3 separate regions of the Homo sapiens genome follow, and all the other regions are linked to region 3. Evidence: fine-mapped expression QTL. A gene starts in region 3. Each other region holds a variant in brackets. All regions are shown on one strand. Distances are from middle to middle. Region 1 overlaps GAK (cyclin G associated kinase). Region 2 overlaps GAK (cyclin G associated kinase). Region 3 holds the start of GAK (cyclin G associated kinase).

Evidence for each region. PIP is the estimated chance that this variant, and not a neighbour inherited with it, causes the effect. A credible set is the group of variants that fine-mapping cannot tell apart.
Region 1: its variant is the best candidate, but not a certain one, in a credible set for the expression of GAK in whole blood (INTERVAL, PIP 0.88).
Region 2: its variant is the best candidate, but not a certain one, in a credible set for the expression of GAK in whole blood (TOPMed, PIP 0.57).

Annotation. Positions count from the first base shown.
Region 1 is chr4:851,916-856,050 of GRCh38, forward strand. It overlaps GAK (cyclin G associated kinase), which reads right to left. Exons shown (of 28, transcript NM_005255.4): 25 at 1-59. Among named protein-coding and RNA genes, the nearest start is that of CPLX1, 28 kb to the left of the region's middle. The variant C/T (reference allele first, on the strand shown) is at 2,460.
Region 2 is chr4:888,707-892,841 of GRCh38, forward strand. GAK (cyclin G associated kinase) reads right to left here. Exons shown (of 28, transcript NM_005255.4): 10 at 1,826-1,916; 11 at 141-264. Among named protein-coding and RNA genes, the nearest start is that of GAK, 42 kb to the right of the region's middle. The variant C/T (reference allele first, on the strand shown) is at 1,664.
Region 3 is chr4:930,614-934,748 of GRCh38, forward strand. It overlaps GAK (cyclin G associated kinase), which reads right to left and starts at 1,703. Exons shown (of 28, transcript NM_005255.4): 1 at 1,430-1,703. The coding sequence starts at 1,574. It overlaps TMEM175 (transmembrane protein 175), which reads left to right and starts at 1,847. Exons shown (of 11, transcript NM_032326.4): 1 at 1,847-1,927. RefSeq lists a silencer at 1,489-1,808 and an enhancer at 1,969-2,288.

The sequences.
Region 1 (4,135 bases), 79 kb before region 3:
TTTGGGCGTGGTGGCCGTTTTGGGAATGAAGCCCCCAGGAGGGAATCCAGCTGGTGAGCCTGTGGAGATGGAGATCGGAAACTCGGCATCTGGTTGTCCATGAGGGGCAACTACTGTTTCTATAACGCAGAGCACCACGTATATTGGAAAACATGCGCTTGCAAAATAGAACACCGATCACTCGAGGCCGTCCAGAGGTGCCGGCTCCACCCACACGTGTGAAGGTCTCCAGGGGCTGGAGCACAGGCCAGGTGCTGGGGCGACGGGAACACTCTGGATGGAGGGCAGACACCAGGACAGGGCAGCTGTGGAGGCAGCACCCCACCCCCAGGAGCCAAGGCAGACCCAGGGCTTGTCCACGGGGGTTGGGGCAGTGTCCCCACGTCACCCCCAGGAGCCAAGGCAGACCCGGGGCTTGTCCACGGGGGTTGGGGCAGTGTCCCCACGTCTGTAGCGTCCTAGAGGGCCACCACCATCTGTCACGTGGCCACTGCCTCTCGCAGCACATCAAATCAGGGCTGATCCCGTAACTTTTTTTTTTTGAGACGGAATCTCGCTCTGTCACCCAGGCTGGAGTGCAGTGGTGTGATCTCAGCTCACTTCAAGCTCCACCTCCCGGATTCTCACCATTCTCCTGCCTCAGCCTCCCAAGTAGCTGGGACTACAGGCGCCCACCACCACGCACGGTTAATTTTTTTTGTATTTTTTAGTAGAGGTGGGATTTCACCATGTTAGCCAGGATGGTCTCCATCTCCTGACCTCGTGATCTGCCCACCTCGGCCTCCCAAAGTGCTGGGATTACAGGCGTGAGCCACCGTGCCTGGCCCGATCCTTTAACTTTTTATTTTGGAATAATCAGAATAGCAGGAAGCTGTAAATACCCTGAGCACCTGCGCCCAGCATCCCCCAGGGAGGGCGTCTCTCATAACCTCAGAGAAGCACTGAGCCCGGGCAGCCGCGCCACCTACAGATGCACCAGACGTGGCCAGCTGGACTCGTGTGTGTGAGTGCGGGGCCGCGCCACTGACCGCACCACGGATTCCTCTCAGCACCACAGCAATCACGACCTGAATGCTTCACTACAGTTCTGTCATCTTTTTTTTTTTTTGGAGATGGTCTCACTATGGCTGGTCTCAAACTCCTAGGCTTAAGAGACCCGCTGGCCTCACCTCCCACAGGGCTGGGATGGTAGGTGTGAGCCACCATGCCCAGACTGTCATCTTAGTTATGTTCTAGAAGGGGACCAACAGCTGCAGCCTCTGGACTGGCACTCTTCACTAGGGCTCGGGGCATCCGCCACTCCCCCTCCCTGCCAAGGGCCATCTCGTGGTGTGCAGACCACCTATTGAACCGTTCACCTGTAGGACACCTGGGTTGATGCCACTGTTTGGCTACAACAGACACGTCTCTGAACGCCTGTTACGGACTTGTGTGTGAATGAGAGTTTCCGTTTCTCTGGGATAAATGTCCCACGGTAGCTCAGTAGCTGTGTGTTTAGCTTCGTAGGAAACCGACCACCTGTTCTCCAGAGCGGCCCTGCCACTTGTCACTCCCTGGGAATGCCTGAGAGACACGGCTCAACCCTGGCAATGCATGAGACACAGCTCGCCCCCGGGGCAATGCGCGAGACACGCGGCTCGTCCCCCCGGCAAGGCGTGAGGCACGCGGCTCGTCCCCCGGCAAGTCCCCCCGGCAAGGCATGAGGCACGCGGCTCGCCCCCCGGGCAATGCGTGAGACACACGCTCCAGCCTCCTCCGTGTTCGGGCCTCCTCCGCGCTCCGGCCTCCTCCGCGCCAGCATTCGGTGATGCTGGGTGTCTCAGCCTGTGCTTCCTGGCCATCGGATGTCAATGTGCTGGAGGTCTCTTCATGTCTCTTGCCCATTTTCTTTTTTTTTTTTTGAGACAGAGTCTTGCTCTGTCGCCCAGGCTGGAGTGCAGTGGCAAGATCTCGGCTGACGCAACCTCCGCCTCCCGGGTTCCAGCGATTCTCCTGCCTCAACCTCCCGAGTAGCTGGGATTACAGGCCTGTGCCACCACGTCCAGCTAATTTTTGTATTTTTAGTAGAGACAGGGTTTCTCCATGTTGGTCAGGCTGGTCGCGAACTCCCGACCTCAGGTGATCCGCCTGCCTCAGCCTCCCAAAGTGCTGGGATTACAGGCATGAGCCACCATGCCCGGCCGTCTCTCGCCCATTTTCTTTCTTTTTTTTTTTTTTTTAATTGATCATTCTTGGGTGTTTCTCGCAGAGGGGGATTTGGCAGGGTCACAGGACAATAGTGGAGGGAAGGTCAGCAGATAAACAAGTGAACAAAGGTCTCTGGTTTTCGTAGGCAGAGGACCCTGCGCTCTCGCCCATTTTCTAACTGGATTGCTTTCAGTTTGTTTTTGACTGTATTTTTATATTCTGTAGATGAGTCCTTTGTCAAATAGGTGGTTTGGAAATATCTTCTCCCAGTC[C/T]GCAGCTCAGATGCTCAGAGCTCTGAAGTTGGGTCCACCTGTCCTCTTATGGGTGTGGTTTGGGTGGCGAGTCTACGAACTCTGCCCAGCCCCAGGCCACAAAGGTTTTCACCTAAAGGCCCTGCATTCTGATGAGCTGTTCTGTAGAACGAGGGCTTAGGGCTTTGCCTACCGCTGCCCAGGTGCTCCAGACCATCTGATGAACGGGTTTTCTGCCTCTGTCAAAGCTCCGCTGGTCTCTCTTGTGTGGCCTGAGTCCTCTCTTCTCTCCACAGACGCGTCTGTCTGCCATCGCCGCAATGTTGATTTGTGGCTTCAGAGTAAGCCTCAAAGCCAGGAACAGTGACTTCTCCCATTTCATTTTTCCATTACAAAAATATTCCAGGCATGGCTGGGTGCGGTGGCTCACGCCTGTAATCCCAGCACTTTGGGAGGCCGAGGCGGGCGGATCACGAGGTCAGGAGATCAAGACCATCCTGACTAACACGGTGAAACCCCATCTCTACTAAAAATACAAAAAATTAGCTGGGCGTGGTGGCGGGTGCCTGTAGTCCCAGCTACTCAGGAGGCTGAGGCAGGAGAATGGCGTGAACCCGGTAAGGGAACTTGCAGTGAGCCGAGATCAGGCCACTGCACTCCAGCCTGGGCGACAGAGCGAGGCTCCATCTCAAAAAAATAAACTATTCCAGGCATCTAGTCCATCTGTCTTTCAAATACACTGTACAGTAAGCTCATTTGTATCTAGGAAAATCCCTGCTGAGGCGTTGGTAGGAACTGCGTTAGGCTACAGATGCACACAGGAGAACGGCCACCTTACTCGGGAGCCTCCAGGCCGTGAGTGCAGCGTCCGTCCCTTCACTCGCATCTCCTCTGGTCTCTTTCGCCACGGTTGGTTTTGTAGTCCCACCACACAAGCCCTAGACATGTCTGGTCAGATTTATACCTAAATGTTTATTTTTTCTAAAAAAAAAAAAGGTGATTGTAAATGGTACTGTTTTAAATGTTGGCTTCCTTATATAATTGCAAGTAAACAGAAATAGGACAGATTTTTGTGTGTTGACCTGGTATCCTGCGACCTTACTGAACTCATAGTTCTAAAAGATCTTTGTAGATTGCTTCAGAGTCCCTGCGCAGACAATCGTGTCATCTGCAGACAGGAGTAATTTTATTTCTCCCTTTGTAGTGCGTGTAACTTTGATCTCCTTTTCTTGCCAAATGGCAGCAGCTGGGACTTCCGACAAGTACAAGTGGAGAAAAGACACTCCTGCCCTGTTCCTGATTTTAGGAGGATGGTTAAAAATGATATTGGCTTGGCCAGGCAGGGTGGCTCATACCTGTAATCCCAGCACTTTGGGAGGTCACTTGAGATCAGGAGTTTGAGACCAGCCTGGCCAACATGGTGAAACCATGTCTCTACTAAAAATACAAAAATTAGCTGGGCATGGTGGTGCATGCCTGTAATCCCAGCTACTCAGGAGGCTGAGGCGGGAGAATTGCTTGAAACTGGGAGGTGGAGGTTGCAGTGAGCCAAGATTATGCCACTGCACTCCAGCCAGGGCAACAGAGCAAGACTCTTGTCTCAAAACAAACAAACAAAAAAAAGATGTTGGCTGCAGGTTTCTGGAGACAGGGTCTTGCTCTGCTGCCCAGACTGGAGTGCAGTGATGCAATAATAG
Region 2 (4,135 bases), 42 kb before region 3:
GGGTGATGCTGTCCCACTGCCTCAGGGGCCCCTGTGGGGCCTGATGACCAGCTGTTCCACCGCAGCCAGGAAGCAAGGGCCGGGGCTGCAGCCTGGAACGAGCGTGCGGCAGGTCCAGGGCTCTGGAGCCTCACACTCACTTAGCGACGGACTGGATGACCTTGGAGGAGGTGTCCTTGAGGTTGGTGAAGAGCCGCTCTGTCCCACCCCGCAGAATGTCCAGGAAGCCGCCATACGGCTGGTCGTACTCCGCCAGCGCCAGGCCTGCAGGGAGACACAGTCTCAGCAGGCCCCAGGTGCTCGGTCCCACCTCCCCAGGTGCGGGTTGCTGGCTGGGCCCAGGCCCCAGGCGCTCGGTCCCACCTCCCCAGGCGCTCGGTCCCACCTCCCCAGGTGCAGGTTGCTGGCTGGGCCCAGGCAGCAGGAGCAGGGAGTGGGTGGTATGGCCAGGCCCCTGACCCACACGTACCCAGCGGGAAGCCAGGCCTCAGCACTGGCAGGTCTACCCTGTCCTCAGCCTTTCCAGAGACCCAGGAAATGGTCAATCTGGGTGCGGAAGGGCTATGTGGCCGCCTCAGCACAGCTGGGGCTGGGACTCTGTCTGTGGGGATAGTCCGGCCTCACGGCCACAGCTTCAGGCCACCATGACCCTGGACGTGAAGGCAGAGTGGTGGCCCCTGGCCTGGTGGGTCCTGCGAGTGAGGTCTTCACAGGCGGCTTTGGTGGCACAAGTGGTGTTAAAAAAAAAACACCTGGCCAAAGTCCCTCATGCAGACAGGAGACCGAGGCCCAGGCAGCACCGAGCAGATGGGGGCACTGCAGAACCCAGCAGCTCGAGGACTCACCCTTCCTCCAGCCAGCAGAGACCCAGCCAGCCACTACACCTGCATGTGTGGGACCCACACTGCACGGACCGGGGTGCCCCAGACATGGAGCTGAGCTCCTCCCTGGGAAGCGGAGGTGAAGGACCCAGGTGAAACCTCCCACACCGCAGTGGGGATGCGGGGCGAGGTCGGGAGGGGTCAGCGCCATGCAGAGCTGCAGACCCAGCCGCTGCCTGTCAGGGCCATGTCCTCGACGGCTCACCCGGAACCTTCTGGAACACTCCCGGCACGGAGTTCCAAGAGCATGCAGCGTCTGTCTCCAGGGCCCTCTCCACTCCTCACCAGCTGAGGGCCCTCCAGGGACACCCAGGCCCATCACAGGTGCCCACTCCTCATGCGGCAGAAGGGGCCACCTCACACTAGCGGCAGAACTGTCTTCCCCCACCGCCCTCCACTGTCCAATGCCTGCTCCTGCCCCCTGGCCTCAGGGTCGCTACTGTAGTAAATGGTTCACCTTGCCCACAGCAGGCCTGGCCCTTCATTCCCAGCTCCTGGGAAGGAACCTGGGATGCCCCCTCCAGCCCCAAAAGGGGTGTCTGTTTCCCTGGGGCCTTGGGCTGTGCCAGACACGACAATGTGATCTATGCTGGGGTCTTGGCCACGGCGCAGGCTGCCTCCCACATAACCCCTGAGCGAGGCCGCCTGGTCACTCGGGCCCGGTCTCCTGGGCCCTGCCCTGGAGCCTCTTCCCTTGGCTGGCTTTAGTCCGAATCCTGACCCCCTCCTGAACTGCACCAAGACACCAGCTTTGCTGAGCTCTGTGAGCCCCAGGGAACTGC[C/T]GAACCTGAGGGTGTGCTCAGGGACCCTGACCTCACAGTCATCTCTGGTGGGAGAGGAGGCCCCGGGAGAGAAGGACCCCAGACTCCATCCCAATGTGCTGCGGGTGCCCGGGGTGCAGCAGGAGCGAGGGACAGGTGGCGGGCACAGGACAGGGCACTCACCTCCACTGTAGCCACTGCCAGCGGGGCCCACGGGAGGGGGTGGCCCTCGGGACAGTGTGGCGCTCCCGTAGCCTCCATTCTGCTCCAGGAGCTGTGACAATGAAAATGCAGAGGTCAGTTCTCTAAACTGACAACTCACGCCTGCCCACGTCGGGCAGAGGTACGGTATGGGTGCCCTCAGAGCCCATCCTTCTGCCCCCTGATCTATGACACAGTGCAAGGGAGGAACTTCCCACAGGCTGAAGCATCAGCTGGAACTCAACAAACGCACGCAGCCCTCATCCCCTCACCCCGCGGCCTGCCTCGCTTGGGGCTGTTGCAGGTGCTCAGCACTCCAGCCCAGCTTTTCAGACTCTTGGGCTACAGCTTCTGTTCCTTTTCCTTTTCTCTCTCTTCCCAGTCTGTCCAACCAACATTTTTTTTTTTTTTTTTGGTAGAGACAGAGTCTTGCTCTGTGACCCAGGCTGCAGTGCTGGAGGGCTGTGGCACGATCTCAGCTCACCGCAACCTCCGCCTCATGAGTTCAAGCAATTCTCCTGCCTCAGCCTCCCAGAGTAGCTGGGACTACAGGCATGCGCCACCACGCCTGGCTAATTTGTTTTGTATTTTAGTAGAGATGGGGTTTCACCACGTTGCCCAGGCTGGTCTTGAACTCCTGAGCTGAGGCAATTCGCCTGCCTCGGCTTCCCAAAGTGCTAGGATTACAGGCGTGAGCCACTGCACCCAGGCTTTTTTTCTTTTTTTTTTTTTTGAAACGGAGTCTCACTCTGTCTCCCAGGCTGGAGTGCAGTGGCATGATCTGGGCTCACTGCAGCCTCCACCTCGCATGCCCAACCATATTAAGCAGACACATGGCCTGTCTGTCCCAGGATGTTCCATCACTTCAGCTCCTGGGTTCTGGGGGCCACCCTGTGAGGCTCACTACCTCCTGGGGGCAGTATTTTATTTCATTGTGAACTCAGCTCCATCATGGACTGTGTTTTCTGGGGGAGTCGGTTGGCTTAAGCAGGGGTCTAACGTCTGTCCCCACGGGGTCCCGGCCTAGAAGCACTCAGATGAGAAGCACTGAGGACCCCGCCCCATCACTAGGGGCCTGATTCTGCCCATCTGCCCAGCGGCACCTCCTCCCGCCCCATCAAGAATCCCTCCAGCGCACTCGACAAAGCAAGAGGCCCACACCCCCCTGCGAGCCCACTGTCCTCTGTGACCTCCGGGGGAGTGGGCAGGCATTTTCTGTAAAGAGCCACCAAGCGAGGGGGACACGAGGCCCAGGCTGCTAAAGAGCAGGACGGCCCAGGAGTGATCCCTTCCTGCCGCTCTCTGACAGCCCCAGGGAAGCTTGCTGAGAGGCCACCAGTGACATCAACTCTCCCGCCTCAGAGCGCCCCACACCTCAAAATGCTTCCAGCACCCAGCACCAGGGCTCCCTCTGCTGGTGCACCCACCATGATGGCCGCCAGAGAGGGGCACCACAGCCTCTCCCCGTCTGCACTGGGCTTCCCAGCACTTCCCTGCTCCCAGGTCTCTGTACCCACGCGGCCCCCAAGGAACTGCAAACCCTCCACACAGCCCAAACCTTCCTTGTCCCACAGGGTCCTGTCCTCAGACAGGGACTCCGGGCAGCAGCTCTGACCTTCTCCCCACGCTCCACACCCACCGCCTGGGTCAGCTCCACTGCAGTGGCCCCTGGAAGTTCCGGCTTCCAGCTACCAGGGAGTGGAAACGACCCAAGGGCTGAAAAGGGGACAAAATGCAGGAGCCAAGAGTCCTGGGTCCTTGGACACAGACCCCTGCGAGATCTGCAGAGGGGCCCTGCGTGTCCTGACTGGGCCCTGAGCTGGGATGCCCAGGGGCCTCCCTGCTCCCCGTGGGTGAGGGCCGGGCCGCGTGTCTGCTCTGCCTCGAGGATCTGGTGATGGAGATGCTGCACCCTGTCCACGGCTGGGTCAGAAAAGACTCTGAGGAAAGCATCTTCCAGCCAACACGTGCTGCTCCCTCCCAGGCCTCACACTTCCACAAAGCACACGGCCCTGTGGGCCTCAGTCTCCCAGCCCCCAGGCCCTGATGCTGCCAGCAGCCACCGGTGCCTGGGAGTGGACCCTGGCCAGGCCCAGCCCTGACACAACTGCAACCAGGACGCCCAGAGCTGAGCTGAGGGTCAGAAACACAGACGCAGAGCAACTCAGGACACCCCAGGACGCCCAGAGCTGAGGGCTGGCTGACCTGGCTTGGACACCAGACCCCAGAAACAAAGACACAGGAGCAATTCATGCTGTCCTGTCAGGGGAAGAATCTAGAAAGGCGCCTGCA
Region 3 (4,135 bases):
GAAAGCAAGTCCTGTCCACAATAAACTTCTTAAAGAATGAAGATAACCACCTAGTATTTTCAGAATAAATGATTTGATCTGAGAGAAATCTTCCAACTGATGTGAAAGAATATCACACTTCAGCCCCCACTTCTGAAAGAAGAGCTTAGACTTTCTGACCAAATCATACCCAAAATCTGTTTGGTTTTGACCACAATGGAGACAAAGTGTGTGATAATGCTACAGTCAAAATGTCTCCGCAGGCCTTTTGTGATAATCAGAATTCTGGGATAGTCTCCTGTCTGGTCACAGAGCAGGCACCTGGACAGGCTAACCCTCCAGCCCTGAGAGGTACCAGGGAGCTGGTGAGGGTGAGGGCTTTTGTGTCGCTTCACTCCCTCTCCCTGTGCCAATACAGCAGAATAGAGTTACGCTTCCGCACCCAAGTCAACTGTGTTTAGCCCATAAACTTCACAGCCAGTGAAATATGACACACCTCCAGGCACCACTGGACAAAAAATGTAAGGAAAATCCACAAGAGAGAATGGGACCCACTGGCACTGGTGATCGATTCCGTGTGAACGGAGAGGACATCCAGGGAGCTAGAAATAGCATGCAGAGACAAAACTGACTCAAGACTGACTCAAGAGGACTTAAGCCGAGTGACCTGTCCACTCTGCAAGTTCTATATAGGTCACAACCACTGGCTCTGCTTCCTGTACTACACACGGAATCACACGAGTAGATGTTCACCGGGAAGAGAAACACTGAGGTGTTGAAAGACGAAGGGGGATCACGAGACACAGCCCAGTCTACCCTCGGCCAACCCCCCCACCCCCCAGGCTACAACCGCAACTACCTGCAACACGTGTGCACCCACCAACTCTCAAGTTCCCTGGACTGTAGAAGAACCAGCCCTAACCTCCAAAGTCCAGTCCTGTCCCTGCCTGCTCAATAACCCCAGATGTCCGGCAAAAGGCCAAGGCTTAAACCCACCTCCTGCACCGCTCACCTCCTGACTCCAGCTGTCGGCCTTCTAGGCACCGTCCCTCAGTCTCCGCTGTGGGTCCCCACCCAAGCTCCCTGCCTGCCACCATCCCCCACCTCACCGTAACATCTTCCCCCACCCACCCTGAGGGGGTTCCCCAAGCCCCAGGCCTTGCTCCGACTTGACCCTACTCTTATGACAAGAAAGTACCCCGACCCGGTCCCAGCCTCGCCCTCCGCAATCACCGCCAGCAGGCACTCACCTACGCCCGCGCTATGACCTTCGCCTGGCCCTGACCCACGCCCTCGGCAGAGACCCTCCCCTGGCCGACCCTGACCCACGATCCCGCTGGGACCCTCCCCAGCCCTAACCCACGCCCTTCCACTCCGGGCTGACGCTGCCCCCAGCGTCCCGGAGACAACACTCCGCGGCCGCACCCGCGCTGCCGACCCGGGGCCTCACCTTCGGCCAGGACCCGCCGCACCCGCAGCCGCAGCTCGCCCAGTTCCACCGTCTGCCCCACGAAGTCACTCTGGTCGCGGCCGGAAGCACCGCCCAGGGAGCCTGGACCCGCCAAGAAGTCGAGCGCCGACTGCAGCAGCGACATGGCGGTGGCTGCGCCGCACCCCGCGGCAGCCGGAGTGGTCGGGCTCGGGCTCCCGCTCCCTCGCCGTCCGGGTCAGCTCAGCAACCGCCGGCCCGGAGGTGCACCATCTTCCGCCTCGACGCCGTGACGTAGGCGCCCGTGAGGACGCGTCGCGTCAGGCGGCGACCCGGCCTAGCCCCGTCCCCTCCGCCGCGGCCTCACTTCCTGGCTGCGCGCGCAGGCGCGGAGGTCTGACGGAGACAGCGCGTGCGCGGCGTCGCCGGGCTTGCGATGAACTTCCGGCTGTCAAGCTCCCGGCCGGGCTGACTCAAGCGGAGGCGCGCGGAACAGTCGCCGAGGCGATTCCCGCCCAGGTAGTTCAGCGCCCCAGTCCAGCTCCCGGTACCGTTCCCCACATGGTCTGTTTTGTGGGAGGCTCCTTCTCAGGTGTCTCCGGTTTAAGCGCTTCGCCATCCTCTGGGTGGAGTCAGCCTCCCGTTTGCTGTTAGCGCCGCGTTTGCGAATGGGTTCGCGAATTTTTCTCTCAGTTGGCTAAGGAGCAAGGAGTTAGCGTGCGTTAAGCTTTCAGTAAATACTTGGTTTTCGTCTCATGGAGGTCGGAGTTTCCTGTGACGCTTAGTGAGTAAGGTTGGCAGCCCCCTCCCAGCAGCCAGGCAGGCAGTTTGCAGGGGAAACGCTGCTGCATTGCTCTGTCTTCCGAGGAGAGGGCCAGGGTCTGGCCTGGGGCAGTGACCAGTAGTGGGAGCCGTGGGCTAGAAAAACCTTCGTCCTGGGCAACCACAACACTGCAGAGACTGCCCTGTGACCCTCAAGGTTCGTTCTCACCCTGACATTTTCCAAGGCAAAAGCAAATCCTCATGAACCACTTGGAAGGGTTCGTAATGCCCAACTATTTGGAGATGAAATGGTGACTTTCCTTATAGGATAATAAGGAAATGGCTCACAGACAATGCATTTTTAGTTTTTGGCCCACACAGTATTTGGGGGTTGGGAGTGGGTAGCAGGAGGTGAATTAGTTGCTATCATTTAAAGACTGATGCCAGGCGCGGTGGCTTACACCTGTAATCCCAGTGCTTTGGGAGGCCGAGGCAGGCGGATCACCTGAGGTCAGGAGTTCCAGACCAGCCTGGTCAACATGGTGAAACCCCGTCTCTACTAAAAATACAAAAATTAGCCGAGCGTGGTGGCGGGTGCCTGTAATCCCAGCTACTCGGGAGGCTGAGGCAGGAGAATCGCTTGAACCCGGGAGGCGGGCGCCACTGTACCCTAGCCTGAGACTCCGCCTCAAAAAATAAATAATAATAATAATAATAATTGAAAGGCCTAAATGTTAAAAACCTAGTTTTCCAGCTTCTGTGGAAAAATCAAACCTGTCAATATTGGACCCAAAATGATGTGTGTTACCAATTACCTAGAGTGGTCCCTTGAGGTAAGACACAGTCATTTGCCTGACCAGATGGGCTCATGTATGTTACCTGCCTGGTTCCTATAGTCATTTAAGGTTGCAACCCCTTCAACAGAGTTATTTGTTCTCCAACTCAAAAATGGATTCTAAAGCTCACATCAGCCTCTTAGCCGTCCCAGAAGCTAACATCTGTTATCTTTATCATTAAAAGATAATAGCCTCAGCTCGTTGGAACACTTATCTATGTTATGGAATGAAGTATTGCATGAAGCCAAATGACATCTTTAAAAATATATATAACAAAAATAACAGTAGCAATAGCTTAGTTTAGGCACTGATTTATTGCTTACAACACCCTTTTCTGTAATAGTTCATTGTAGTGAAAACATCTTTGTGAAGAAAGCACAGTATAATTAACCCCCTTTATTTTGGGATGAGAAAATATGCTCAACAATGCCATTATTCGGCCAGGGCCAACAAGTGATACAACTGCAATTCAACGCAAGTCATGGCTTTTCCAGCCAGTGCGTTTGTCTGGTCGACTGTGGAATAGAAGGATAGAGAGCTCAGGAAAGAATCCCTGCTAGAGACAGATATCTGGGCATCCTCAGCATAGAGGTGGCAGTTGGCTCTAGGAGCTGAAGAGAGGACCAACAGAGATGGTGTACTAGACATAAAGAGGTTAGAATCTTCAGAGAATAGACAGTTTGTGGAGAAAGAGCAGTCAGTGAAGGAGGAAGAAAACCAAGAGAGTGTCGTAACAGAGCCAAGGAACGAGGATGTTCGGGGCAGAGAGTGCAGCTAAGAGTGTCGAATGCCACTTAAAAGTCAAGTAGAAAAAGAAATGGAAGATATGTGTTGGATTTATTCACAAGGGATCATTGGTGACCTCACCAAGAATAGCTTCATTGGAGTAATGAGGTGGAAGCTACATATTACCGTAGAGGGATGAAGAGATGATGAGGTAGAGATGGCAAGTGGAGATAACTCAAAATGTTTGTCTGTGGAAGAGAATATGAACAACTTCAGGCCAACAAATTCGGCACCCTTAGCTCCAGGGAGCTACAAGGGTGATGTAGTATTGAGATGTTTTAAGATGAGAGATTCTTGAGCAGCCTAAAGCGGATGGAAGGGAGAGAAGGTTTGCTGGTACAGA